Linked DNA regions of Homo sapiens. The protein of the gene in region 2 interacts with the protein of the main gene of each other region in a biochemical or structural test. Each region holds a gene or a part of one and is shown on either strand. Other genes may lie near its edges. The genes, in order: STAT6, PTPN2, OCLN and STX17.

What was found.
Region 1: of the proteins of PTPN2 (region 2) and STAT6, one has a biochemical effect on the other in vitro, tested with the Homo sapiens proteins (one study listed by BioGRID).
Region 3: of the proteins of PTPN2 (region 2) and OCLN, one has a biochemical effect on the other in vitro, tested with the Homo sapiens proteins (one study listed by BioGRID).
Region 4: of the proteins of PTPN2 (region 2) and STX17, one has a biochemical effect on the other in vitro, tested with the Homo sapiens proteins (one study listed by BioGRID).

What each region holds. Positions count from the first base shown.
Region 1 is NC_000012.12:57,101,132-57,108,457, reverse strand, and holds part of STAT6 (signal transducer and activator of transcription 6), read left to right. Parts: intron 1-158; 5' UTR 159-179; coding exon 180-295; intron 296-714; coding exon 715-853; intron 854-1,143; coding exon 1,144-1,227; intron 1,228-1,626; coding exon 1,627-1,765; intron 1,766-1,877; coding exon 1,878-1,930; intron 1,931-2,118; coding exon 2,119-2,267; intron 2,268-2,858; coding exon 2,859-2,990; intron 2,991-3,118; coding exon 3,119-3,307; intron 3,308-3,644; coding exon 3,645-3,732; intron 3,733-3,866; exon of another isoform or gene 3,867-3,871; coding exon 3,872-3,994; exon of another isoform or gene 3,995-4,098; coding exon of another isoform or gene 4,099-4,131; intron 4,132-5,536; coding exon 5,537-5,629; intron 5,630-5,961; coding exon 5,962-6,168; intron 6,169-7,326. UniProt on the Homo sapiens protein: Carries out a dual function: signal transduction and activation of transcription. Involved in IL4/interleukin-4- and IL3/interleukin-3-mediated signaling.
Region 2 is NC_000018.10:12,825,054-12,832,379, forward strand, and holds part of PTPN2 (tyrosine-protein phosphatase non-receptor type 2), read right to left. Parts: intron 5,989-7,326; coding exon 5,890-5,988; intron 892-5,889; coding exon 757-891; intron 1-756. UniProt on the Homo sapiens protein: Non-receptor type tyrosine-specific phosphatase that dephosphorylates receptor protein tyrosine kinases including INSR, EGFR, CSF1R, PDGFR.
Region 3 is NC_000005.10:69,502,470-69,509,795, reverse strand, and holds part of OCLN (occludin), read right to left. Parts: intron 5,620-7,326; 5' UTR 5,552-5,619; coding exon 5,502-5,551; intron 656-5,501; coding exon 1-655. UniProt on the Homo sapiens protein: May play a role in the formation and regulation of the tight junction (TJ) paracellular permeability barrier.
Region 4 is NC_000009.12:99,901,731-99,909,862, reverse strand, and holds the start of STX17 (syntaxin-17), read right to left. Parts: upstream 3,210-8,132; 5' UTR 3,157-3,209; exon of another isoform or gene 2,660-3,156; intron 1-2,659. UniProt on the Homo sapiens protein: SNAREs, soluble N-ethylmaleimide-sensitive factor-attachment protein receptors, are essential proteins for fusion of cellular membranes.

The DNA.
Region 1 (7,326 bases), on a different chromosome or scaffold from region 2:
GCATTGACTCAGGATGCCCCTGGTTTAAGGTGGTCTGGCCATGAGTGGTGGTGGGGACGGTCCCTAGGAGGGCTATCTATGGGAGGTCCCTGGCTGCCCCAGGAGATAGGCCAAGTTTCTTGGGCACCCCTCAGAGTGGCCTTATTTTTCTCCTCCAGGCAACCTCCAAGTCCCAGATCATGTCTCTGTGGGGTCTGGTCTCCAAGATGCCCCCAGAAAAAGTGCAGCGGCTCTATGTCGACTTTCCCCAACACCTGCGGCATCTTCTGGGTGACTGGCTGGAGAGCCAGCCCTGGTGAGTCCTGGCTGCTCCCTGCTGGTCCCCCAAGTCTTCCCTAACTCATCTTCCTTCTCCTTAGATTTTTCTCCCCTCACCCATGGATTCAGAACTTGAGACCTGTTATTCCATGTGTAGTGACCTAGATTTAGCAGGGAGTCTGTGCCCCATCAAGACCAGGCTATGAATGTTGACAGATGGAGACCCCATCTCTTAGGAGGCTGAGCCGAAGAGGAGGGGGGTTTGGGCTGGGACAAAGGCACTTCTCATAACAGCTAGAAGACTGGGAAACAAGGCGCATGGGTGAAAGCTACAGAGGGCCTAGATGGAGAATAAGGAGCGAGAAAGGAACTGCTGAGCTTTTGGCTGTGGGGTAAAGGGTCAGGAGAGCTGAGGAAGCCCTGGCCTGAGGTAGCCTCATCCTGATCTTCCTGCAGGGAGTTCCTGGTCGGCTCCGACGCCTTCTGCTGCAACTTGGCTAGTGCCCTACTTTCAGACACTGTCCAGCACCTTCAGGCCTCGGTGGGAGAGCAGGGGGAGGGGAGCACCATCTTGCAACACATCAGCACCCTTGAGGTGGGGCAGGAGGGGAGGGGACAAGGCTGGGTGGGGCTGAGGTTGAACTGGGTTGAGCATTGGGCCCTGGAAGAAAATTGGTTGGATGCTGGAAGCAAATTGGTGTTCCTGTGGTTAACTGCTAGCTAGCAGGCAAATTAGATTTTAAAAGCATGCAAATGCACAAAAACTTCTGGAGTCTACAGTTGTGCTTCCTTATAGTATATGTGTGAATGCAGGCCTGGGGATTGGAGGGATTGAAGGACATGGGTAAGAGCAAAGCTCACTGTTTACCACCCTCATTTCTGTAGAGCATATATCAGAGGGACCCCCTGAAGCTGGTGGCCACTTTCAGACAAATACTTCAAGGAGAGAAAAAAGCTGTTATGGAACAGGTATTGTGATATTCCACCTCCCACCCCAACTCAATCCCCTGAGACTTTGGCCTGAGCCATGACAAACTAGAAAGAATTTGAACCTCAGTAAAGGCTCAGTGTTCTAGGCCCAGGAATGACCAAAGGAGGTTCCTAGGGTCAGAGTGAACCCCAAGTCAAGCTCAGGGAATCTTTCTATGAGGGACTGAAGGTAAGAGGCCGGGGAGAACAGAGCAAGGGATAAGGAGCTGATTCTGCTAGGAGCAAGGTCTTATCTCCACGATATTCCAAAAGGTCAGGAAGAACTGCCAAAGGGGAGAGGGGAACAAGAAAACGCTATCTGCAGAGCAGAGAGTGGAGGCCAGGTATAGAGGGATGAGCAGAGTGTTTCACTTCTTGGCATCTGTCCTTCCTGTGTAGTTCCGCCACTTGCCAATGCCTTTCCACTGGAAGCAGGAAGAACTCAAGTTTAAGACAGGCTTGCGGAGGCTGCAGCACCGAGTAGGGGAGATCCACCTTCTCCGAGAAGCCCTGCAGAAGGGGGCTGAGGCTGGCCAAGGTGGGGGCCAGGGTGGTTCTGGGGAGTGTGTAGGAGTGGTTGCCTCTTGGATCTCAACCTTATCTGAACCTCTAATCTGTCTGCACCCTTGATTTCTGCCCCCAACCCTCAGTGTCTCTGCACAGCTTGATAGAAACTCCTGCTAATGGGACTGGGCCAAGTGAGGTGAGTAATGGGCTGACAGGTGGAGACCTTGGTCAAAGTGCAGCTGGAGGGATGGAAGCTAGACCTCAGAAAGACACAGGCTGAAGTAGGGCAAGGGAATGCCAGAGGAGTGAGAAAAAGAGCCGTATCCCAGGAGCTGGGTGTGGAGGCAGCGTGAGGCCCTGGCTCAGGCCCCTCTCTGCCCATAGGCCCTGGCCATGCTACTGCAGGAGACCACTGGAGAGCTAGAGGCAGCCAAAGCCCTAGTGCTGAAGAGGATCCAGATTTGGAAACGGCAGCAGCAGCTGGCAGGGAATGGCGCACCGTTTGAGGAGAGCCTGGCCCCACTCCAGGAGAGGTTGGGCTAGGGCTGATGGGGAAGAGGGGGCAAGCTGGGGGTGGGCAGCTGACCCTGCTGAAGGCCCTACAGGTGAGAGAAAGAAGCCAGGCGGGAGGGCCTTGGAGTGGACCAAGATGCATAAAAGCCAGTTCCAGCGGGGCTGTGCACACTGTCGTTCAGGTCGCATCCTGTACAAGTGGGCCTAGTGGAGGGGCACAAGCGGGGACTCATCCAACCCAGGCTTCTCTCCTCAAGCCCCATGCCTAGAGGAATAGGAGGGCTTTTCCATTTGGTTTATTGGGTGGGAACACTTTCCAATTTGCCACAAAGCACTGTAAGTGGTGGCAGTTGTCCTGGGTGCAAGAGCCGTCGGGGGAGAGGCAGCTGGGTTTCCACAGGGGGTGTAGGCACTGAGAATGAACCTCCCACCCAGACCCTAGGCCAACAGATCACAGAACCCCCTTCAGCCCAGGTGCCTTGCAGCCACACCCACTACCCACCCCACTTCTCCACACATGATAGCCTTTCTCCCTGGGTATAGGGGAAGGGGGTCTGGGCCGGAGCAAGCAGCCTTAATCCTGTGCCCCCTGACCACTGTCCTGGCCCCAGGTGTGAAAGCCTGGTGGACATTTATTCCCAGCTACAGCAGGAGGTAGGGGCGGCTGGTGGGGAGCTTGAGCCCAAGACCCGGGCATCGCTGACTGGCCGGCTGGATGAAGTCCTGAGAACCCTCGTCACCAGGTATTCCCCGGGAGCTCCCAGTCTGGCCTAGAACAGACCTCGGGAAGAAAAGAAGGGGGCTAGAGCTGTGGGGAGGGCACCAGCAGGGACCTAGCCCCCAACTCCCCTTGTGTCCTCCTCACTCCCAGTTGCTTCCTGGTGGAGAAGCAGCCCCCCCAGGTACTGAAGACTCAGACCAAGTTCCAGGCTGGAGTTCGATTCCTGTTGGGCTTGAGGTTCCTGGGGGCCCCAGCCAAGCCTCCGCTGGTCAGGGCCGACATGGTGACAGAGAAGCAGGCGCGGGAGCTGAGTGTGCCTCAGGGTCCTGGGGCTGGAGCGTAAGCTGGGATTGGACCTGGGGTTGGAGAAGGGCTGTTAGGGTGATGGAGGCAGCCTGGAGGGCTGGCACTGAAAAGAGCAAGGGATGGGGAGGGAGGGCCATGGGATGTGGAGACCCTGAATGGTCAAGGCAGAGGAAAGGGAGGGACCCATTTAGGGCTGGAATGGGGTGGGGGCATCATGATTTGGCCAAGATGGGGACTCCTCCCTTAAGAACCCAAACAGAGACATGGAGATTTAGGGCTGGTGACAGTGGGTAGTCTACACTCACCCATGCACTCGCCACACCTGACGACAGTGAGATGAGCTCGTTCACACTCTGACCTCCCCTGGCAGAGAAAGCACTGGAGAAATCATCAACAACACTGTGCCCTTGGAGAACAGCATTCCTGGGAACTGCTGCTCTGCCCTGTTCAAGAACCTGGTGAGGGGCTTTGGGGTGCAGTGAGGGGGGCACCACTAGGAGACTGTGGGACTCTCCTTGGAGAGGATGTCAGGAAGCCCAGGAGGAGCGGTCTCTGTCCTCATGACCTCGCCCTTGCTCTCCCTCACCCCACCCACAGCTTCTCAAGAAGATCAAGCGGTGTGAGCGGAAGGGCACTGAGTCTGTCACAGAGGAGAAGTGCGCTGTGCTCTTCTCTGCCAGCTTCACACTTGGCCCCGGCAAACTCCCCATCCAGCTCCAGGTGAACCGTGGCCCAGCCCTGCCCCAATCTGGGACCCCGAGTCCTCCTCCAATGCCACACACAAGGGCCCTGGACCCTCACCTCTTGTGACTGCCCCATACCCCATGTGTCTGGGATTCATGCACACTGGGGCCCGGGTGAGTGGGGGTGAGCAAGAGCATGGAGTGCACAGGGCAGGGAATGGTAGTGGATAGCAGCAAACACTTCGGAAGCACTTCCTATAGACCAGGGCACTCTATTAAATGATACATACGCACATGCGTGCCAGCACACACACGTCTGGTTTTCACAATAACATTATGAGGTAGGCAGTATTATCAGCCTCATTTTATAGATAAGGACATTGAGACAGAGAGTTTAAGTAGTTTGTCCCAGTCACACAGCTAAGTGTTGGAGCTGGTATTTGAAACCTGGAGGTCTGGTTCCATAGCGATGACTAATAACCACTTCTCTACGGTGAGGCCCTGATTGAGCTTCAGAACGCATTTAATAACATGGCATGAGCTTTTTGATTATGATGTGTGAGTCCAATAACTTCTCTGAGTGCTCAGAGCCAGTCCCCTGAGGAAACTTCTTGCTTCACTAAGAAACCCCTGTCCGGCTGGGCATGGTGGCTCAAGCCTGTAATCCCAGCACTTTGGGAGGCCGAGGTGGGTAGATCACAAGGTCAGGAGTTCAAGACCAGCCTGGCCAATATGGTGAAACCCCGTCTCCACTAAAAATACAAAAATTAGCTGGGCGTGGTGGTGCAGGCCTGTAGTCCCAGCTGCTCGGGAGGCTAAGCAGGAGAATCGCTTGAACCCAGGAGGCGGAGGTTGCAGTGAGCCAAGATTGCGCCACTGCCCTTCAGCCTGGGCGACAGAGCAAGACTATGTCTCAAAAACAAAACAAAACAACTCAGCACTTTGGGAGGCCAAGGTAGGAGGATCGCTTGAGCCTGCAAGTTTAAGACCAGCCTGGGCTACATAGGGAGATCCAATCTCTACAAAAAATAAAAAATTGGCCGGGCATGGTGGCTCACGCCTGTAATCCCAGCACTTTGGGAGGCCAAGGCGGGCGGATCATGAGGTCAGGAAATCGAGACCATCCTGGCTAACACGGTGAAACCTCGTATCTACTAAAAATACAAAAAATTAGCCAGGCATGGTGGCGGGCGCCTGAGTCCCAGCTACTCGGGAGGCTGAAGCAGGAGAATGGCGTGAACCTGGGAGGGAGAGCTTGCAGTGAGCCAAGATCGCGCCACTGCACTCCAGCCTGAGTGACAGAGCGAGACTCTGTCTCAAAAATAAATAAATAAATAATTAGCTGGATTAGGTGGTACATTTCTGTAGTTCCAGCTATTCAGGAGGCTGAGGTGGAAGGATCACTTGAGCCCTGAAGGCTGAGGCTGCAGTGAGCTGAGATTGCACTACTGCACTCCAGCCTGGGCAACAGAGTGAGATACTATCTAAAAAAAAAAAAAAAAAAAAAAAAAAAAAAAAAAAAAAAAAAAAAAAAAGGAAAGAAAGAAAGAAAAGAAACCCCTGTCCTCACCCTCTTCAGGCCCTGTCTCTGCCCCTGGTGGTCATCGTCCATGGCAACCAAGACAACAATGCCAAAGCCACTATCCTGTGGGACAATGCCTTCTCTGAGATGGTGAGGAAAGTCCTGGAGTTGGAGGGAACAGGGGCAGGGTGGGTTCTAACATGGGCAGTGGTGCAGGCCTGCTGATGGGGTGGTGGGCATGTTTAAATGGGTGTGACCTTAACACTTTCTCATGGGCCTGCTTTCGTGCTTCTGACCTCTTTTCACCCCAGTCTTAACAACTATCAGGCCACAGCACTGTAACCTAGAAAAAACAGCATGTTTGTGAGCGATATCAGGGGCTGTGGAGGGGTAGGCCACAGGCAGGTGGGAGGGATGAAGGCCGGCCCGAGGAATAACAAGACGGTAGCCTGCAGTGCTCTCTTCTTCCCCCTTCTCCCCAGGACCGCGTGCCCTTTGTGGTGGCTGAGCGGGTGCCCTGGGAGAAGATGTGTGAAACTCTGAACCTGAAGTTCATGGCTGAGGTGGGGACCAACCGGGGGCTGCTCCCAGAGCACTTCCTCTTCCTGGCCCAGAAGATCTTCAATGACAACAGCCTCAGTATGGAGGCCTTCCAGCACCGTTCTGTGTCCTGGTCGCAGTTCAACAAGGTCATTCTCCTGCCCTTTGGACCTCCCACCCCCAAGCTCTTCATCCCTGGGGCACTCAGGGCCTGCTCAGCCTCCATGCAGGGACCTTCCACTGGATTCTCCACAGTGCCCCCTCAGGTCCTTTAGGAAGGCCTGTCATGGACCAGGGAGGAAAAACCCCAGGCCTGGGGGTTGGCTCTGGAGATGCGTTCTCTGACATCCCTGAGGTTTTGGTCTGGGGGCCATCTGTCCTTCCTCTTTACCAGTGACTTGCATGACTCACCCAGGTTGTGTGTAAACAGAGCTCTGATTCAAAGTGACTTTGACCTGTTGGAAAAATAGTTCCTGGCCGGGCACAGCGGCTCATGCCTGTAATCCCAGTCTTTGACATGCCGGGGTGGGTGGATCACCTGAGGTCAGGAGTTTGAGACCAGCCTGGCCAACATGGTGAAACTCCATCTCTACTAAAAATACAAAAATTAGCCAGTTGCGGTGGCACATGCCTGTAATCCCAGCTACATGGGAGGCTGACGCAGGAGAATTGCTTGAACCCAGGAGGTGGAGGTTGCAGTGAGCTGAGATCATACCACTGCACTCAAGCCTGGGTGACAGAGCAAGACTCTGTCTCAAAAAAAAAAAAAAAAAAAGGCCAGGCATGGTGGTTCATGCCTGTAATCCCAGCACTTTGGGAGGCCGAGACGGATAGATCACCTGAGGTCAGGAGTTCGAGACCAGCCTGGCCAACATGGCAAAACCCCGTCTCTACTAAAAACAAAAAAATAGCCAGGAGTGGTCGTTTGCGTCTGTAATCCCAGCTACTCGGCTGAGGCAGGAGGTGAACCCAGGAGGTAGAGGCTGCAGGGAAGATGAAACCATTGCACTCCAGCCTGGGCAAGACTCTGTATCAAAAAAAAAAAAAAAAAAGGCTAGGTGTGGTGGCTCACACCTGTAATCCCAGCACTTTGGGAGGCTGAGGCGGGCGGATCACAAGGTCAAGAGATCGAGACCATCCTGACCAACATGGTGAAACCCCGTCTCTACTAAAAATACAAAAATTACCTGGGCATGGTGGCGCATGCCTGTAGTCCCAACTACTCGGGAGGCTGAGGCAGGAGAATCACTTGAACCTGGGAGGCAGAGGTTGCAGCGAGCCAAGATTGTGCCACTGCACTCCAGCCT
Region 2 (7,326 bases):
CTCCAGCCTGGGTGGCAAAGCAAGACTGTCTCAAAAAACCAATCAACCAACCAACCAACCAACCAAACAAACACCCAAGTAAATGTTCTTGAGACCACATGCCACATTTATACATGTGTGTGTATGTATGTATGTATGTGTGCGTGTTACATATATATATAAAACACCATTTTTTTTCCAACTCAATAGGGACAAATTTTTGTGTTGTGAATCACTTAACAATAGCTTTGTAAGTTATTTTCTTGACTATTTTGCTATTCTTGGCAGTCACAGGTCCTGGGAGCTATTGCTTGCTGGGCATTTACTAAGGTCAGGTGCTCTGCATACACATCCTCATTTGACCTTCAGGACAGCCCCGGAGGGAAGGCGTGGTAACCTCCATTTTACAGATGAGGAAGGGATCAGTGAGGGTGGGGAACAAGTCTAAAGTACAGCTCTACTAAGCAGCAGAGCTGGATCTGAATCCAGGTTTGCCTGATTCTAAAGCCCTCTCTATTAATCCTCATGTATTTCTATTAATTAATTTTTAATCCCCAAATATCAAACTGAACTTTGAAATTCTTAGTTTCTACTGTTTCTTCAGAGTCCTCAGAAAGCTACTAGATGCAGACACACAATCTAAAAACACGTGATTATGGCTAGATACTATAGGAATTATCCAAATGCATGTGCTTATCAAACTTCAAATCTAATAATAAAGAATAATTCTTTAAACCATCATATAAAGTCCACAATTTCGGGCAAGAAAGGTCTTACATTGATATTTTCTAATTGTAGTAGATGTACTGTATAATACGACTTCACATCTTCTGACAAGAGCTTCACACTGAATCCTGTTTCTTTAAACAGCATCTCTTGGTCATCTGTTGGCCAGTACTGTGCACATTTAACCTAAATTTAGAAATATGTATATGATTTTTTTTTAGTTTATAGACATCATGAAACCATAAAGTTAAAAAATGAAAACAAACCAGATATATACATGCTATATTTTTTCAAGTACCCAAAACTAAGAAGTCACTACTATATTCTACGCTTAATGTATTTTAGTAAGATTGAAATTTTATAGCCGGGCGCGGTGACTCACGCCTGTAATCCCAACAATTTGGGAGGCTGAGGCGGGAGGATCACCTGAGATCAGGAGTTCGAGACCAACCTGGCTAATATGGTGAAACCCTGTCTCTACTAAAAATACAAAAACTAGCTAGGCGCGATGGCGGGCGCCTGTAATCCCAGCTACTTGTGAGAGTGAGGCAGGAGAATCGCTTGAACCCAGGAGGTGGAGGTTGCAGTGAGCCAAGATCATTCCACTGCACTCCAGTCTGGGTGACAGAGCAAGACTCCATCTCGGGGAGCAGGGCGGGTAGAGATTGAAATTTTATAAAGCATTTTTTATGTGTGTGCAGTCATCACTGTAAGCCAGTTTTAGAACATTTCTCTCAGACTCAGAAATCCCCTTGTGTCCTATTCCCACTCCAAGCCACAGGCAAGCACTGATCCATTTTCTGTCTCCATAGGCTTTTCTTTTCTTTTGAGCTGGAGTCTTGCTCTGTCGCCCAGGCTGGAATGCAGTGGCGTGATGTTGGCTCACTGCAACCTCTGCCTCCTGGGTTCAAGCAATTCTCCTGCCTCAGCCTTCTGAGCAGCTGGGATTACAGGCGTCTGCCACCACACCCAGCTAATTTTTGTATTTTTAGTAGAGACAGGGTTTTGCCATGTTGGCCAGGCTGGTCTTGAACTCCTGACCTCAAGTGAACCACCAACCTCAGCCTCCCAAAGTGCTGGGATTACAGGCGTGAGCCACCATGTCCGGTCTTATAAGGTATTTTTTAAGTGTTCCTGTAACTTATAAACTAAAAAAGCCATAGGTATCATATTCATAAAATAAAAATAAATTTATCATTCTTAAAGCATGATTACCTATATTTTAACGTCATGGGACATTCACTTTATGTTTCTAAAATTATCAAACTCTTGCAATAATTTTATCTTCAAAATAAATGTTGCTGGCCAAGCGCGGTGGCTCACGCCTGTAATCCCAGCACTTTGGGAGGCTGAGGCAGGCGGATCATGAGGTCAGGAGATCGAGACCATCCTGGCTAACACAGTGAAACCCCGTCTCTACTAAAAATACAACAAATTAGCCGGGTGTGGTGGTGGACGCCTGTAGCCTCAGCTATTTGGGAGGCTGAGGCAGAAGAATGGCGTGAACCTGGGAGGCGGAGCTTGCAGTGAGTCGAGATAGCAGCACTGCACTCCAGCCTGGGCGACAGAGCGAGACTCCGTCTCAAAAAAAAAAAAAAATAATAATAATAATAATGCCTTAAGAGGAAAATAAATAATTTTTTTTTTTTTTAAGAGACAGTGTCTTGCTCTGTAGTAGCCCAGGCTGGAGTGCACTGGGGTGAACTTGGCTCACTTCAGCCTCAATCTTCTGGGCTCAAGCAATCCCCCAACCCCAGCTGGGACTCCAGGTGCGTGCCACCACACCTGGCTACTTTTTGTATTTTTTGTAGAGGCAGGGTCTCACTTTGTTGTCGAGGCTGGTTTTGAATTCCTGGGCTCAAGTGACCCTCCTGCCTCAGCCTCCCAAAGTGCTGGGATTATAGGTGTAAGCCCTCCAACCTGGCCAGAAAAAAAAAAATTTTTTTTAAGTAAAATAGAAATAAAGAGATAAACAGGATTAAAGAGAACGTGACAAATAAAAAAGGTAGGCAAAGAAAATCCAACATACGTATAATAGGAAGACCCAAAGAAGAACATTAAAGCAAGCAAGGGAGCAGAACAAATACTAAGGACTGTAATTCAACAAATATTTCTTTAACAAAAAGTATTTAAAAAATTTTAAAAAGTACTTGAAGTCAAACTCTCAAGAACACATCATGTACCTGTAAAAACTGACCCAGAATGGCCAATTACTAAGACATATTTTTGGTAAAACTAATAATATCTGAAGAAAAAGAAAAAAAGAATTCTTTGGGTAGTGCAGATAAAAAGAACAAGAGACTTATAAAGGAAATAAGATGTCCATTAGACTTTGGTGGAATACCAGAAGGAAATGGAAAAAAAAAGTTGTTCAAAGAATAGCACATGAGCCAAGGATTTTATATCCCGCCAAACTGACTTTCAGATATTAAGACAGCAGATGAACCATCACTGACATGTAAAAAAATCAGACTATAATGCTCACAAGTCCCTCCTTAGGAGCCACTAGAGAATGAGCTTTAGTCAGAATGACTGGAGAGACATCAGCAAAGACTGTTGATGAATATTAAATAATGCTTGCTTGTAGAACTAAGAGTCTACAAGAGATGTAAGGGAGAGACTACAGTTTGTAAAGTACAACTCAGAAACACCAGGAAGAGAATGAAAAAAATATTAAAAATTGTAAACCATTTTCAGTAATTATTTTGGTAGCAGATGATATCATGATTATGGTTATATATTGTATATGATATGGGAAGAAGGAAATGAGTCATTACAAGATAGTTTACATCTCTCATATCTTTGAGAACCAGGATTCTTGGTATGAAAAAGGAAATAGCAGATGTAAGATGGAAGGGGCTAAGCAACACTTATAGTTCCAAATTTGAACTGGGAATATCATTATGAACTCTTGAAGTATGTTATCTTAACATATGCATATTGTTCCTTAGCTTTTGTCCACTGAAAAGCCCTAAAAACAATGACCAGTCCAGTTGCAATATATATCCTTATTTTTGCTGTGATCTTGAAATACTGCTGCCCATTAAAAGAAACCAAAACTCCTTAGAGAAATGGCTGGTTCCAGGTCTGGGCAGCAAGAGTTTGAGATGAGCCTGAGATGCAGTCATTACAGACAGCAAAAAAAATTTTTTTTTTTTGAGACAGGGTCTCGCTCTGTCCCCAGGCTGGAGTGCAGTGGCACGACCATAGCTAACTGTAGCCTTGACTTCCTGGCCTCAAGTGATCCTCCTGCCTCAGTACCCCAGGTAGCTGGGACTACAGGCATGCGCCACCACACCCAGCTAATTTTTGTATTTTTTGTAGAGACAGAGTTTCACCATGTTGCCCAGGCTGGTCTCAAACTCCTGGGCTCAAGCGATCCACCCAACTCAGCTCCCCAAAGTGCTGAGATTACAGGTGTGAGCCACTGCACCCAGCCAAGGAAACTATTAAAGGTTTGTTAAAAAGGACTCAGAGCTGGGTGAGGTGGCTCACGCCTGTAATCCCAGCACTTTGGGAGGCCGAGGTGGGCGTATCACTTGAGGTCAGGAACTTGAGACCAGCCTGGCCAACATGGTAAAACCATCTCTACAAAAACTAGCTGGGCATGGTGGTGGGTGCTTGTAATCCCAGTTGCTCGGGAGGCTGAGACGGGAGAATCTCTTGAACCCGGGAAGTGGAGGCTGCAGTGAGCTGAAATCATGCCACTGCACTCCAGCCTGGGCAACAGGCGAGACTCTGTCTCCAAAAAAAAAAAAAAAAAAAGAGGACTCAGGACCCAACCTAAAGACATTGCTGCTAGCCAATGACAGGGTAATTTGATCAAAAATAAGGAAAATAACTGCAAAGGAGTAAAATTAATCCAGTATGTCCAAACCCATAATAATTCAACCTCTCCTGCCACTCTCCACCAGAAAAACTCCTAATTGGTCATCTGTTGAGAACAGATGACCTCAATAGGGAATCAACTTTTTTTTGGAAAACTGCTTTTAAGAGAAGTAATGACAGAATTGGATTATCATCATTTGTAACCCATAATGAATTAAGAAGCTGAACACTGACCAATAATGGCTATTAATGAAATAAAAAGAACAATAATCAGACATTATGGGTCTCTTGATGAATAACACATTACCCACCACCTCTGAAGTAATCTTCCCCAAAATAATTAAACCTGACTCTTGTTAACCATCTAGGTTCAACCACCATAAACATGATTTCTAAATTCTGGTGGCAGTGTTATCTTATTAATACAGTAATTATACTCCAAAATGAGAGAAATAAAATTTGCAAATCATGTAGTCTACAATGGTGCTCAAACTGACAATGTCATAATCCTTGATTTTTTTTTTTTTCTTTTTTGAGATGGAGTCTCACTCTACCGCCCAGGCTGCAGTGCAGTGGGTTTTGAGATGGAGTCTCATTCTATCATCCAGGTTGAGGTGCAGTGGCACAATCTCGGCTCACTGCAACCTCCACCTCCTAGGTTCAAGCGGTTCTCCTGCCTCAGCCTCCCAAGTAGCTAGCATTACACCTGGCTAATTTTGTATTTTTAGTAGAGACGGGGTTTCACCATGTTGGCCAGGCTGGTCTCAAACTCCTGACCTCAAGTGATCTGCCTGCCTCGGCCTCCCAAAGTGCTGGGATTACAGGTTTGAGGCACCGTGCCTGGCCTAATCCTTAATTTTTAAATGATATTGAAGATCAGGAAAAACCCCTGTAAATGACTATGCTGATACTGCTGGAAATTCTGGCATGTCATTGCCACATCTAATTAGAAGTGGATTAGGAAATTTTCATCATCATTAAAAACCAGCAATTATGAAATGTAGAATAAAGTAAGAAATCTGAAGTAGAACAGTACAAGATCTTAAAGCTGGAAGAGGACTTATTGACAATAGGTCAATAAGGATTCCTAGGGATTCCAAAGATCTATATGTCACTGCTAGTCCATATTTATTCCATTGTATTTCTATCTTGGAGATGAAAGGTCTGCAATTGTTATAAAAATACTTAAGAAAGGAAAAGGATACATGAGTTTTTCCGGACAGAAACACTTTGACCGCTAGCCTTTAGCAATTAAAGGCCAAAACTAAGGAATGAATATTGGCCCCAAAATGAAAATCTTTATATGCTAATGATCACATACAGTATACTAAGTTGTAAATATTAAATATTACTCACCGATTCTTTCTCCACAATGCGGTTCAGCATGACAACTGCTTTGGTCTTCTGCTGCCAAACCATAAGCCAGAAATGGCAGCATGTGTTAGGAAGTGGACCCTGTGAAGAGAGAGGAGAGAGAGCAGATGAGGGAAGCAGACAGAAAGAGCAAGGCTCCAGGAAGGCCTTGTTAAGTCTGCTCCTGGGATGTTACAAGACAGACAGCGGACGGGCTTATAAGAAGTAAACCAAGACTTCCAATCTACCTGATTTCAAAAACAGGTCTGTGTTAGTTAGGATTTTTGGTTGTAAATGATCAAAACTGACTTTTATTTTCTCAGGCAAAAAAGGAATTGTGTAAGATATCAAGTGGCTTTCAGAGTTGAGGACTAGAGAGACAAACTTGGGTAGGAACCAAGGGTTAAGACACAAGCAAGGTCCTGCCCCAAAGAAAGTCAACCTGGGATGCTGCTCTTGATACCGTCACTACTATCTCCTTGCTTTTGCTGGCACTGCCATATGAAGGTGGCTATAGTATTCATGTACAATCTATAGGCAAATCAGAGACAAAATCACGAGTAGGAGTATCTGACTGATCATGTTCTAGCTGCAAAGAAGGTAGACCAAGGAAATTTCTGTCCTCTTCATCTTCTACAGCCAAGAGGATGTGCCTCCCACACATCATAGAAAATCCATGAGAAAAAAGTCTGTACCATCACTGGCCAGCCAACCAACTCAAGTCAACTACAAAAAGATTTCTAGAAAAAGTAGGAATCATTAAAGTACCTGAACCACAATGAAACTGTTAATCTACAAATGCACAGTATGTACGGCCTCAATGGAAGAGTATTGGGCAGAGTTAAAAAGGGGCAACAGTCCATGTTACAACAATGCCATGGGGATAAAAGCAAAATATTTCATGTATTTCCAATTGCTTTCACATTTTAATGATAGCATAGGGCAAAAGGAAGATCTAATAAGAGATGAAAAGCCTATGTACAAATTTTAACGAGTTTTAAATGAGAAGGTTAAAATGAGATGTAGTTTTGCTACACCTAAAATAACTATGAACATGCATTCAACTCACATGGAATGTAGCAGAGTGGTATGAGTTAGGGGCAGAGTCAGGAGTGGGGGCTAGGGCTGCCCAGAGCTTCAGACCCACATACAACAAGGGGGTTAAAGTGGTTCTAGACTAAAAGCATTTTTTATTTTTTGAGATGGTGTCTCTGTCACCCGGGCTAGAGTGCAGTGTCACGATCTCAGCTCACTGCAACCTCCACTTCCCAGGTTCAAGAGATTCTCCTGCCTAAGCCTCCCACGGAGCTGGAATTATAGGCACCCGCCACCACACCTGGCTAAATTTTGGATTTTTAGTAGAGACAGGGTTTCACCATGTTGGCCAGGTTGGTCTCGAACTCCTGACCTCAAGTGATCCACCTGCCTCAGCCTCCCAAA
Region 3 (7,326 bases), on a different chromosome or scaffold from region 2:
GTGATACAAATACTGATCCACGTAGAGTCCAGTAGCTGCAGGTGTATAAAATTGGTTGCAGAGGGCATATATTTGTGAACCATATAGAGATCCAGAAGACTGAGCAGTTGGGTTCACTCCCATTATATAGACAATTGTGGCAATAAACACCATGATGCCCAGGATAGCACTCACTATTATCACACTTAAGTAGTATCTTCTTGTTCTGGACATTTCAGATCTTATAACACTGGTAACAAAGATCACCAACGCGGCAATGAAACAAAAGGCAGCCATGGCCAACATGAAGCCCTTTGCTGCTCTTGGGTCTGTATAGCCTCCGTAGCCATAGCCATAACCATAGCCATAGCCATAGCCACTTCCGTAGCTACCAAAGCCACTTCCTCCATAAGGGTAGCCTACACTACCTCCTAAAAGGGAAGTTCCATAGCCTCTGTCCCAGGCAAGCGTGGAGGCCACACAGGCAAAGATGGCAATGCACATCACAATAATGAGCATAGACAGGATCCGAATCACTCCTGGAGGAGAGGTCCATTTGTAGAAGTGAAGAATTTCATCTTCTGGGTAAAAAGAGTAGGCTGGCTGAGAGAGCATTGGTCGAACATGCATCTCTCCACCATATATGTCATTGCTTGGTGCATAATGATTCGGTTTGCTGAAATGAACATGAAAATAATTTCAAGTTAGCATTTTTTGGTAGTAAGCAGAAAGAACACAACTTATTTGGAATAATTTAAACCATTGGGTAAATGAAACTAAAGCTTATCTGTGCACAGGAATCACCTGGAGGGCTTGTTAAAACATAAGATTATTGGCCTCTAGCCACAACCCATTCTGCTCAGACATTTGGGTTATCTCTGTTTGGGGGTATTGTAAACAGTTTAACTATAAACATCCTTGAATGTGTATTCTGGTACGGAACAGTACTTATTTTTCTAGGGTATATAACCAGGAGAATTTCTGGATCACATATTTTTATATCTTCAACTTCACTAGACAGTATCAAACTGTTTTCCAAAGTGATTGTACCAATTACCTACAGTGGAATGGGTAACTGTAATATATCCATACAATGGAATACTCCATAGCTATACTGTCCAATGTGGCAGCCACTAGCCACTTGGGTCTATCATACACTTGAAATGTATCTAGTCCGGCTGGGCACGGTGGCTCATGTCTGTAATCCCAGCACTTTGGGAGGCCAAGGCGGGTGGATCACTTGAGGTCAGGGGTTCAAGACCAGCCTGGCCAACATGGTGAAACCCCATCTCTACTAAAAATACAAAAATTAGCCAGACGTGGTGGCATGCGCCTGTAATCCCAGCTACTCAGGAGGCTGAGGCACGAGAATTGCTTGAACCCGGGAGGTGGAGGTTGCAGTGAGCCGAGATCGTGCCATTGCACTCTACCCTGAGTGACAGAGCAAGACTCCGTCTCAAAAAAAAAGAAATGTGGCTAGTCCAAACTGAGATACGCTGTTAAAATGCACAGTGGAGAGTCTGAGGTGGGCAGATCACTTGAGGCCAGGAGTTTGAGACCAGCCTGGAGAACATGGTAAAACCCTATCTCTACTAAAAATACAAAAATTAGCCAGGCATGGTGACACATGCCTGTAATCCCACTTACTTGGGAGGCTGAGGCACGAAAATCAAGAATCCCTTGAACCCAGGAGGCAGAGGTTGCAGTGAGCTGCGATCACACCCACTGCACTCCAGCCTGGGTGACAGGGCAAAAAAATTTAAAAATGCACAATGGATTTCAAAGATATAATATGAAGAAAGAATGTAAAATATTTCCTGAATCATTCATTTTTTACATCAATCACGTGATGAAGTAATGTTTTAGATATACAAGATTAAGTGAAATATATTAAAATTAATTTCTTCTTTTGGCCAGGCACGGTGGCTCACGCCTGTAATCCCAGCACTCTGGGAGGCCGAGGCGGGTGGATCACCTGAGGTCAGGAGTTCGAGACCGGCCTGGCTATCCTGGTGAAACCCCATCTCTACTGAAAATACAAAAACTAGTTGGGCGTGGTGGTGTGTGCTTGTAATCCCAGCTACTTGGGAGGCTGAGGCAGGAGAATCACTTGAACCCAGGAGGTGGAGGTTGCAGTAAGCCGAGACCGTGCCATTGCACTCCAGCCTGGGCAAAAAGAGCAAAACTCTGTCTTAAAAAAAAAAAATTATCTTTTTATTTTTAATGAAAGTATAAAATTACATATATGGCTCATGTTATATTTCTACAGTGCTATGAAGCCAAAACTGATGAACTATGAATACATGCAGTTACAGGTAATGCTGAAAAAAATGAAAAAATACATATCGCATTATTATATTTACATAAAGTTTTAAAACAGGTAAAACTGGCCAGATGTGGTGGCTCACACCTATAATCCCAGCACTTTAGGAGGTGGGCGGGTCACCTGAGGTCAGGAATTTGAGACCAGCCTGGCCAACATGGCGAAACCCCGTCTCTACTAAAAGCATAAAAATTGGTTGTGCATTGTGGTGGTTACCTGTAATCCCATCTACTTGGGAGGCTGAGGCAGGAGAATTGCTTGAATCCAGGAAGTGGAGGTTGCAGTGAGCCAAGATTGTGCCACTGCACTCCAGCCTGGGCAACAAAGTGAGAGTCTGTCTCAAAAATAAATAAATAAAACAGGTAAAACTAAACTGAAATGTTTAGGATATACAAGATGATAAAATGATAAAAGCAGGTAATGATCATACGTCAGGACAGTGGTCTCCAGAGAAAAGGAGAGGACACAGGGAAGGACTTTGAAGTGTTCTGTTTCTTGACCTGGGTGATGAGTATGTATGTTTGCTTGGTCTTTCCTCATGATCTCCTACATATGTTCTGTGTCCTTTTCTTTATGTATGTTGCAGTTCACCATTATTTACAAAAGCAACACAAAATAAGTGTCAGATTAGTGGTGCATTACTCAATTACTATATTCTCTAGTATGTTTTAAAAACTGTATTGTCATAAACAACTTGTGTCCCCACCATGTTTTAGGCACTAGTAAGGAGGTTAAAGAACTGGAACACAACCTTCACGTGATATTGTAAAATATGTATTTAGTCTTCATCTCCATTTTCTGGCATACAACTCCTAAAATCTTTGGACTCTCCAAAGTGATAAGTATCCCTTATATGCTAATGAGATGATAGGTTCCTGGCAGCCCTAGGAAGCTTCAGGATGGGAGCTAGGATTAGAGGGTTGGAACTTTTCAGCCCCAACCCTCTCTGGACAGGAAAGAGGGGCTGAAGCTTAAACTGCTCACCAATGGCCAATGATTTAGTCAATCATGCCTATGTCATAAAGCTTCCATAAAAACCCAAAAGGACCGAATTCACAGAACTTCTGGACAGCTGAACATGTGCAAGTTCCTGGAGGGTGGCACAACCAGGGAGGGCTGCTTCCCACATACCTCGCCCTGTCCACCTCTTCATCTGGTGTTTGTTGGCATCCATTGTAATATCATTTGTTTGTTCATTCATTCATTCATTCTTAAAAGACAGGGTTTCCCTATGTTGCCCAGGCTGGCCTCAAACTCCTGGGCTCAAGCAATCCTCCTGCCTCAGCCTTCTGAGTAGCTGGGATAACAGGCATGCACCACCACACCTGGCTTTTGTAATACCCTTTATAATAAACCAGTAATGGTAAGTACTGTTTCCCTGAGTTCTGCAAGCCACTTTAGCAAATTAATTGCACCCAAGGAGACAACTGTGGGAATCCTGATTTACTGTAGGTGGGTCAGAAACACAGGCCACAACCTGAGCTTGTGGCTGCTACGTGAAGTGGGGGCAGTCTTGTGGGAATGAGCCCTGAACCTGTGATCTGATGCTATCTCTGACAGTGTCAGAATTGAACTGATAATTAGAGGACACACAGCTATTGTCCACTGTAGAACTGATTACTTGGTTGCTGGTGGGGAAATATCCCCACAAATTCTGGTGATCAGAGGTCACAGATGTGTTGTGACAGAACAGCAGGAGAAACTGTTTGTTTTTGCCTATATCACACTCCACTACACTTATCATGGTTAAAGCTGCAAACTACTTAGAGGAGGAAATCCCTATCAATGTTTGATAGCAAATTTGGAATTCAAAAATTCACTGATAAGTCTTCACATGACCAAGGAGCCCAAAACCCCTCAACACTGCTTGTTTTAGATCATGGCAGGAATCACTCTTAAAACTGACAGTATGGAAAGTATTATGCTAAGTGAAAGAAGCCAGTTACAAAAGGCCACATATTACGTGATTTCTCCATTTATACAAAATATGCAGAATAGACAAATCTATAGAGACAGAAAGTAGACCAATAGTTGCTTAGGGCTGATGGAACTGGGAGGTGACTGCCAATGGATAGGTTTCTTTGGAGAGTAATGAAATGTTCTAAAATTAATTGTGGTGATGGTTCTACAACTCTGTGAATATACTAAAAACCATTAAACTATCCATTCTAAATGGGTAAATTGTAAAGTATGTTAATTATATCTCAATAAAGCTGTTATTTTTATTTATTTATTTATTTTTTGAGACGGAGTTTTGCTCTTGTCACCCAGTCTAGAGTGCAATGGCGCCATCTCAGCTCACCTCAACCTCCGCCTCCTGGGTTCAAGCGATTCTCCTGTCTCAGCCTCCCAAATAGCTGCAATTATAGGCATGCATCACCATGCCCGGCTAATTTTGTATTTTCAGTAGAGATGGGGGTTTCTCCACGTTGGTCAGGATGGTCTTAAACTCCCGACCTCAGGTGATCCACCCGCCTCGGCCTCCCAAAGTGCTGGGATTACAGGCATGAGCCACCAGGCCTGGCCTTTTTTCTTTTTTTCAGACGGAGTCTCGCTCTGTCTCTAGGCTGGAGTGCAGTGGCGTGATCTCGGCTCACTGCAACCTCCACCTCCTGGGTTCAAGTGAATCTCCTGCCTCAGCCTCCCAAGTAGCTGGGATTACAGGCAAGTAGCTGGGATTAGAGGTGCGCGCCACCACAGCCAGCTAATTTTTGTATTTTTAGTAGAGACGGGAGTTCACCATGTTGGCCAGGATGGTCTCGATCTCTTGACCTTGTGATCCGCCAGCCTCGGCCTCCCAAGGTGCTGGGATTACAGGCGTGAGCCACCGCACCCGGCCTAAAGCTGTTATTTTTAAAAACTGACAATATGTTCCCAATGGCCACCTAAATGAGGCATTTAAATGGAAGCTTCATTATCATTTGTACAAAACAAAAAGGAACATACAAATATAAACCTTGGCAATCTCTTGAAACAAACATTAGGAATAGGTGACAGCAGTTGTCCTAGCAGAGACAAACTGTCATTCTGAAAGTTGAGAGAAATTCAGTTTTCAGTGCAGACCCTTTGATACAATTTAAATTTACAAGTACACATATCGTTTTATTTTTAAAAGCAAACACTTAAAGTTTCAACCATACTTATTGTTTACATGTGATAGACTTTTTAAAAGAGAATAACTAAAGAATTATTTACTTACAATTCATCAGGCCTGTAAGGAGGTGGACTTTCAAGAGGCCTGGATGACATGGCTGATTGTCAATGGTCAGCTGATCTTCAGGATGAGCAATGCCCTTTAGCTTCCAAGATAAACCAATCTAAGCAACAAAAGTAGAGTTATGGCATTACTACTAAGCTCACAGTTTCTTTCTTTTCTTCATCCCACCCCCACCCCGAGACAGGGTCTCACCCTGTCACCCAGGCTGGAGTGCAGTGGTCCAATCACAGCTCACTGCAGCCTTGATCTACCAGGCTCAAGTACTCCTCCTACCTCAGCCTCCCAAGTAGCTAGGACTACAGACCTGCACCACCATGCCTGGCTAATTCCTGTATTTTTTGTACAAAAATTTGAAATATATATAATTTCATATTACTTTTGAAAGTTCATATTAAATGAGAATGTATAAGAAAGTGCACATATAGCCGCACTAGCACATACTAGCTCCTCAATGCAAAGTAACCATCTAATGGGTTAAATGCCTTTATCATTAAAAATGATAATAAAATGCATCTATAAATGGTGGAATTGTAGATATTTTTCCCTTATCTCCTTTTCCAAGTCTTCGAAACTGAGCACAATTTTTATACAAGGGGAGAAAAAACAATATGCATGGTATTAATTGGTCATTTTCTGAAATTTTGTCCTAAAATTCTTCAGCACAAGTTCCTAAACATCTGAGGAGAAATTTCACTCAACAAGCATTTATTAAGTGCCTACACTAGACCAGGAGAGCCTGTGGGAGTGACGTATGACAGCCAGCGCTGGGGTCCTGGCTCTTCCAGGCTGGTGTGGTGCTGATAACACAGGTGGCTAGCTTATGGAACAGTGAAGTGGGAGCATGGTGGAATGGTGTCATCTTTTAAAATAAGGTTACAGTAAGAATATAGTGGATGGAGGATGAGTAAGAAAAGGGAGGGCTTTGAAAGTCTAGTGGGAGTGTCTCACTTCCTTCAGGTAGGAAACAGGGAGCCAGTTCGTGATTCTCGGCAAGGGAGGTGTAAGTTTGATTTGAACCAGATTTGAAAGACAAAGTCAACAGTAAAAAGGAGCACCTACAGTCAGCAGCAGCAAACCTAGGTGTGAGGCAACAATGAAGGACTAGCTTAGGAGACAGAAGATAGGAAGGAAACTAACATTCATCAGACACCTACCGACGTGCTGGGTGCTTTACATAAAACCTCCTTTCATCCTCAAAACGACCCTCCATGGTTGATTAGTCACTTTACAGATGCAAAGAGGGTCAGAAAGAGATGTGAAGTAATATGCTCAAGGTTATATGGATGTCAGTGAGTCACTCAGATGTAACTTGAACCCAGATGATTTCATGTGCTTTTCACTATGCTAGTTTGAAACAATGAGTTCCATTTGGGAAACACCAGTTTTTGTGGGGAGTGCACATCTGGTGTTAGCATCCATGAGGAAGTGAAGATGGAGGTCATCTGCCTACGTCCGTAGGTGGATCCATGGGCACTGAGAGCTCTCCAGGAAAAAGACAAGTCTCAGCAAGATGTGGTAAACACACAACCCCCTAACCTATAAAGCTTGAGGATTATTCTAGAAAACCCAGTGCTGGAGACACTGGCAAGGTACTTCCCACATCAGCTACAGAACTTCATGCCACTCCTTAGCTATGTTGAACCAACAATAAATTCTTTCCAGGTTATACCAGTGATTAGTAGAGTAGGGAACTTTGAGATCTACTGGAAGGTAAATTCCATGTGAGCAGGAATTTTTGCATGTTTTGTTCACTGATTAAATCAATGCCTGGCACATAGTAGACGTCCAGATAATTTGTTGAATGTTT
Region 4 (8,132 bases), on a different chromosome or scaffold from region 2:
AGGCATACAATGTGTAATAATCACATTAGGGTAAATGAGGTATCCATCACCTCAAGCATTTATTCTTTGTGTTGCAAACAATCCAGTTATACTCTTTTAGTTATTTTTAAATATACAATTGAATTATTATAGTCACCCTGTTCGGCTATCAAGTACTATATTTTATTCATCCTCTATCACTATTTTTTTGTACTCATTGCATTTCTTCTTTCATGAATTGCCTGTTCATGTCATATGCATCTGTTTTTACTACAGGGGATGTCTTTCTCTTATTAACTCATAAAAGGCTATTACATGTTAAATGTATCAATTATTTGTCTAACATTAACATTTCCCAATCTATCACACTGCCTCTTTTCTTTTCTTCTATACCACAAAGAGATTATCTTTATATCTACCATCATTCCTATCAAAATGTTTTTTGAACACACCTGTTGTTCAATAGATGCTGCCTGAACTAAAATATTTCTTCACACGTCCCTTCTATACAATTGCTAATCCTATCACTCTAGTCAAATAGCACAATATGCATAGCCATGATAATGGAGCTTCAATTAGTCTACCTTTAGACTCTTTCCCTCCAAAATGGAATATAAACTATAAAAACATAAACTGTATTATAAACGAATAGCATAACCACACTGAAAGAAGTGAGGAAGAAAAATTATCTAAGCCACTTTAGAAAACAATATTTTAACTGAATACTATAAGCCTAGAGACAAAAAGAACTACACTGTACTCTATTTAGTAAATGTGTTTCTCACAGGAACATAGGTCAGAAATCCTGAAATTACTTTATGTGTATACTAGGACTGAAGAAATAAGAAAATATTTTGTAGAATGCCAAGAGTCAGATTTCTCACTGTCAGATAAAAAGTTAAAAATAAGGGACAAAACTAGAATGAACCCTGTGGTGTTAGACTAGAAGCAAAGCTACTGGGATGAACTTTTGTTTTTAAAAAGTATATGGATAGACAAATACAGAAATAAACATAGATCTTTGTGTATGCATGGGTATGCATATGTATAGACTGGTGTCTTCTGTGGGGCCCTGGAAGCAATGTTACCCCAGTAGCAATGAGCATCCCTAGAGCACAGATCTTTGTGTTTAAATACTATTCTCCAAAAAAAGAAACTACGGGTCGTTGGAGAAGTGGCTGACTATCAGGGCTGAGGCACAGAAAACACAAGATGAGCCTGGGGCATCCTATGGTACCAGAAAATTAGGAAGTTCCAAAAAAGAAAAAAAAGGATGGAAGCATGCTGAAAAGCTACAGAAAGCAACCTGAAAGAAAACTCCCAATGATCAAAGCTGGAACAATTTCAAACATAAAATAACACAAGTGTAGGATAACAACCAATAGAAAAACATCTAAGTCCACATGGATACAAATAAATAACGGAATACAAATAAACAAATGGGAAATGGGCAGCTCATCCTTACAGAATAATTTCAATTAATAAAGAAATGAGGAAAGTAGAAAATCATCATTAGAACACCATAGTCATAATAATTGCTGAAGGCAAGATCCACCAATGGATGTGAAATTTAGCAAGGGAAAGTCTGAGGAGAAACAGGATATGCGTACGGTTTAAAAGCTCCCCCCCAAGATGTCAATTATAAGGAGAAAAATAAGACCTTTACATTGGAGAATCCCAGCAGACACTCTCTACCAAGTGATCAAGATTAACCTCACGAGCAATAAGTCATATATATCAGCTATGCTCATATGATGAACTGAGAAGGGCACACACACTTTTGTGTTCTTAACAAAAATGTATAACCTTAATCTAATCATGAGAGAACACTGGACAAACCCCATTTGAGGGGCACTCTACAAAATAACTGACCAGCATTCTTCAAAAGTGTAAAGATCAGAAAGAGTATAAAGACAGAAAAAGACTATCAGTGTAAAGACAGGAAAAGACAGAGGAACTGTCACAGACTGGAGGAGACCAAGGACCCAAGACAACTAACTGCAATGTCGGGTCTTAGAGTGGATCCTAGAATAGAAAAAGGACATTAATACAGGAAAAAAAATCACAAGTTAGTAATTCAGTTAATAGTATTATACTAATATTAACTTCTTGCTTTTGATAATTGCGCTATGGTATGTAAAAAATTATTAATGGAGGCAATAGGGAACTCTGTATTACTTTTGAAACTTTTCTGTAATTTTAAAATTATTTCAAAATAAAAAAGTTTTTTAGTATAAGAGGATGTTTCACGTAAGACAGGTAAAAACATTTAGAAGTCAAAGAACTGCCATCGTATTCACTGCATTAATACTTGGAGAGAGGGGTGCCAGGACTGTGCCAGGTGCTTTACAAACTTTATCATGTAGTGCTTACAACTAATATGAGATGGGTACCATAATACTCATGTTTCCCAGTAAGTTACTTAGGAGGTTATTAATAAGTGAAAGACCCCATTTCTCAGGAAACCCAGCCCCCAAAAGTGACGAACACCTTCCATCGGCCCAGAGCTCCCACTTTTCAGGATACTAGTGGCGCCCGATTTCTTCCGGCCCGCCGCTTAATGTTTCTGACTTATGGAAGAGATACCGAATTTGGAGAGAAAAGTCAAAGTAAAGTCTCCTCTCTGAACCTCGGTTAGCTAAAAGGAGGGAGCCAAGGTGTGGGACCTTCTGCCAACCACCTCTGGGTTTGGCGAGCAGGGGCTTCCGGCCTCTCGCTCCCAGTCCTCCGAGCCTCACTACCATCGAGCGTCGCGTCATTCCTCGCAGTGTCACCCACAGCACACCTGGGCCACACACACCAAACGCCCCCACCAGCGAACGGATGCGCGGGTCTGTCCCGGGACCCAGACGCCAGCGACCCTGGCGACCCGGGGCCTACAGCGCGCCAGAGACAGGACGCGCGCCGGAAACTTTTCCACCCCGCGACCCCGGGAGGCCGTCCTGCTCGCATCGTCTGCGGCCTCCCTATACCAGCTTCCAATAAAGCTTCCAAAAACGAAACCAAGCGAGGCTCCGCCACTTCTGAAAAACAGGAGGAGCCACCATGGCGCTCGCACTTCGGATCCAATGCCCTACTTGCCGCCCAGCGCCTCTTGCGCGCGCCACACGGGCGCCAGGCCCACCAAGCCTGTGAGGGCCCGACGCCCCCAAAGGCGGCCTCCAGAGAGCCCCTTACCTCCCGCCGGGGCGCTCGAGGCCGGTCGGTGGGCACGGCGCAGGCGCAGGAGCGACGGGGCGGGGCATCACGAGGGGTGGGCAGGGTTGGGCCCCGCCCCCGCCCCCGCCCCCGCCCCGCAGGGCCCCCAGGCCGGGCGCTGGGGGCGCACAGGTGAGTACAAATGCGGACGCTGCTGAGAACAGCGAAAGCCTTTTTCAAAAGTGATATTGATTTACGTTATGGGGTTGTGACTCGAGCCAAGAGGAGAGAGACGCACAAACGCTCTTTAGGTCTGCTTGTTGTGTTTAAGACAATTCATGCTTGTATGGCCGACTGCATTTCGCAGTTTTCCTGTCCGTTTTCCTCTGTTCTTCCTAGAATTTTATTTGCGGGTTGGGCATGTATTCTTAGCTCTGTTTTGAAACTGAAGCTCAGAAAGGTGGTGCCTCCCCATCCCGTCCCCAAAAGCCCTGTGAAGTGGACAGGGCAGGAGTGCCATCTTAATTGCAACAGGTGTAAAAATTAAAGCTCAGCAAATTGTGGTTTCCTCCAAAAACTGGTGGAGGGCTTAAGGCAAACGTCTTTATCCCGATTTTATAGATTATGACTCTGGGGTTTAACAAAGAGTTTTAAGTGACTCACTCCAGTTCAGCCAGCTTATGGCAGAGCTGGAACTCCAACTGGGTGTCCTAATTTCCTTCCCAAGTTATTCCAGTTAGACCAGCTGCAACCACATGAACAAGCAGGTGGCCGGCTTTGAAGCCTTGTCCAAGTCACAGGTCCTCCTCTCTTCATGGCCTAACTTCCAGATCCAGCCCTTTTAAAAAGATGTCTGTGAATATTCAGATGACGTGCTTAGAATGTATTCACTAATGGCATTGTCTCAGAAGTGATCAGGATGTTCAAACCACAGTTAAGGAAACTGAGTTCTTAGGGTCTTCCAGTAGAGTAGGAGGTAAACAGGGAAGATTAGGGGCCTGTAGATCCTTTAAAAAGCCTTGAAAGACAATTTCTAAAACAAAGCACCAAATCTACCAAGCAATTTGGATTTTCTTTGGGGACATAATGTATACTGATATTTGTTTTACAATGAGCTCCAGAATGTATTTATCAAATTTTGATTCTAAGGAGAAAAATTAAAGTATTAGGCAATACTGTGAGAAAATGTTTTTTATGCAAGGATCAGTGAAATAAGATCTTTTGAAATAAAAGATCATTTGTGTTAAGTTCTGAAAAAGCTTCCTCAGGTACAAAATCAGGAGGTGTGGTACTCAAAGATTCTAAATTTGGACCTGGACTTCTAAGTTGTTATATGTATGTTTGCTGTAAGTTAGGTGTGTCAAAGTAGTAGGATAAACATTTTTTTTTTTTTTTTTTTTTTAGACAGAGTCTTGCTCTTTCGCCCAGGCTGGAGTGCAGTGGCATGATCTCAGCTCACTGCAACCTCCACCTCCCAGATTCAAGCGATTATCCTGTGTCAGCCTCCTGAGTAGCTGGGACTACAGGCGTGTGCCAACATGCCCGGCTAATTTTTTGTATTTTTAATAGAGACAGAGTTTCACCATGTTAGCCAGGATGGTCTTGATCTCCTGACCTCGTGATCCGCCCGCCTCGGCCTCCCAAAGTACTGGGATTACAGGTGTGAGCCACCATGCCCGACCAAAACCTTTTAATCTAACTGTTGGTTAGCTTGATTTATAATCTTTAAATATTCAAACATATGGTGTGTGGACCTCTTTTGTGTACTCTAGGTCATCAAGTTGTTAGGGGCAGGCCTGCTACTACTGGCCGACATTTTCCTGAAGTCCTAACTGAACCCAGCAAGTCCAAACAAAACATTAAGTGTATATGTTGGAAAGAAAATTAAAAAAAATTCTTAGGGTGTTATGATTGATTGCTTTCTTGGAAAATCCATGGAATAAACTGAAACTAATTCAATAAGATGGCTATAAAATACCTCTCCTAAACAACAATCATCAATTTTAAAATGTAATGAGAAGAAGACTGGGCGTGATGGCTCATGCCTATAATCTCAGCACTTTGGGAGGCCAATGAGGGAGGATTGCTTGAGGCTAGAAATTCAAGACCAACCTGGGCAAAATAGTGAGACCCCATTTCTAAAAAAAACAAAAAAAACGTAGCTGGGTATGGTGGCATGTACCTATAATCCCAGCTACTCAGGAGGCTGAAACAGGAGGATCAGTTGAGCCCAGGAGTTTGAGGCTGGAATGAACTATGATCCCACCAGCCTGCACTCCAGCCTGCAGAAAAGACTGACACCCTGTCTCAAAAAAAAAAAAAAAAAAAAAAATTGAAATGTACTGGGAGGAAGATTACATTCAAAAATGACAAAAATCAAGTTTGTGTTTATAAGGAATTACAAGACCTATTTGAAGAATTGAGAATAATAGCTAGATGAGGGATAGGGGTGGAAGGAAGGATCACAAAGGGGCATAAGGAAACTTTGGGAGTGATAGAAATGTTCATTATCTTGATTGTGGTAATAGCTGCATGGACGTATATATATGTCAAAACTTACCAAATTGTACACTGTAAATATGTTTATGTATAAGTGCTTATTGTATGTGAATTATACCTAAATAAAGCCATGTAAAAAGGGAGGGGGGAAGAAGTAGCTTTTTATTTGATTGCATGTGATGTGTAAAGCACTTGGTTAGGCGCTTTACATGCAATATGTTATTTAATACTGATGACAACCCATGAAGTAGGTATTACAATCACCCCCTTCATACAAACTAGGAAATTGAGGCTTAGAGAGTAACTTGACCAAGGTCCAAGTCTCATATACTACATAACAGGAGTAAGACTCAAATCTTACGTAACAGTATTTATACTTTAACCTGACTTCCATATTTCCATATAAGATACAAGTAAAGACTTGACTATGTGGAAAAGTAATACAGTCAATATTGTAAAGTTGTCCATTTCCACCAAACTAACTTAAAAATTTATCAAAATCCCATTATGATTTTTCTCTTTCTTTTTCTTTCTTTCTTGTTTTTCTTTCTTTTCTTTCTTTTTTCCTTCCTTCCTTCCCTTCCTTCCCTTTCTTTTCCTTTCCTTTCTTATTTCCTTCCTTCCTTCCCTTTTTTCCTTTCCTTTCTTATTTCCTTCCTTCCTTTTCCTTTCCTTTCTTATTTCCTTCCCTCCCTTCCTTCCTTCCTTCGTGTTTTGTTTTGAGATAGAATCTTGCTTTGTCACCCAGACTAGAGTGCAATGGGGGTGATCATGGTTCACTGCAGCCTTGACCTCCTCCTGCCTCAGCTTCCCAAGAAGCTGGAACCACAGGTGTATGCCACTATGCTGGGCTAATTTTATTTTTCTAGAAATTGGGACTCCCTGTGTTGCCCAGTCTAGTCTCCAATTCCTGAGCTCAAGTGATCCTCCTACCTCAGCCTCCCAAAGTGCTAGGATTACAGGTGTGTGCCACCACACCAGGCCCCCTTTATGATTTCTATAATAAAACATTTTAAAAAATCCAAATTGATTTTGCAACTATTACTCTTTCTTCTTAGAATGCCATTTTTTGCCTGCTTTCCCCCATCTCTTTCCCCCCACCCCAGAGTAAAGAAATTACTCTTTATTCTGCTGGACTCAAAAGTCATCTCACCTAGGAAGCTTCTCCCACTGATATGGTTTGGCTCTGTGTCCCCACCCAAATCTCATCTTGAATTGTACTTCCATAATTCCTACATGTTGTGGGAAGGACCTGGTGGGATATAATTTGAATCATGGGAGATAATTTGAATCATGGGGGCGATTTCCCCCATACTGTTCTCATGGTAGTAAATAAGTCTCAAGAGATCTGATGGTTTTATCAGGGGTTTCCACACTTTTGCATCTTCCTCATTTTCTCTTGCTGCTGCCATGTAAGAAGTGCCTTTCACCTCCCGCCATGACTCTGAGGCCTCCCCAGCCATGTGGAACTGTAAGTCCAAATACAGTTCTTCTGTATTTCTTCCCAGTCTTGGGTATGTCTTTATCAGCAGCATGAAAATGGACTAATACAGTAAATTGGTACCAGTAGAGTGGGGCGTTGCTGAAAAGGTACCCAAAAATGTGGAAGCAACTTTGGAACTGGTTATCAGGCAGAGGTTGGAACAGTTTGGAGGGCTCGGAAGAAGACAGGAAAGTGTGGGAAAGTTTGGAGCCTCCTAGAGACTTGTTGAATGACTTTGACAAAAATGCTGATCGTGATATTAACAATAAGGTCCAGGCTGAGGTGGTCTCAGATAGAGATGAGGAACTTGTTGGGAACTGGAGCAAAAGTGACTCTCGTTATATTTTAGCAGAGACTGCCAGCATTTTGCCCCTGCCCTGGAGATTTGTGGAGCTTTGAACTTGAGAGAGATGATTTAGGGTATCTGGTGGAAGAAATTTCTAAACAGCAAAGTATTCAAGAGGTGTCTTGGGTGCTGTTAAAGGTATTCAGTTTTATCAGGGAAGCAGAGCATAATAGTTTGGAAAATTTGTAGCCTGACAATGTGACAGAAAAGAAAATCCCATTTTCAGAGGAGAAAGTCAAGCTGTCTGCAGAAATTTGCATAAGTAATGAGGAGCCAAATGTTAATCGCCAAGACAATGGGGAAAATGTTTCCAGGGCATGTGAGAGGTCTTCACAGCAGCTCTTCCCATCACAGGCCTGGAGGCCTTGGAGGAAAATATGGTTTCATGGGCTGGACCAAGGGTCCTCGTGCGTGTACAGCCTAGGAACTTGGTGCCCTGTGTCTCAGCTGCTCCAGCTGTGGCTGAAAGGGGCCAATGTGGAGCTTGGGCTGTGGTTTCAGAGGGTGCAAGCCCCAAGCCTTGGCAGCTTCCACGTGGTTTTGAGCCTGCAAGTGCACAGAAGTAAAGAATTGGGGTTTGGGAACCTCCACCTAGATTTCAGAGGATGTATGGAAATGCCTGGATGCCCAGGCAAAAGTTTGCTGCAGGGGTGGGGTCCTCATGGAGAACCTCTGCTAAGGCCGTAC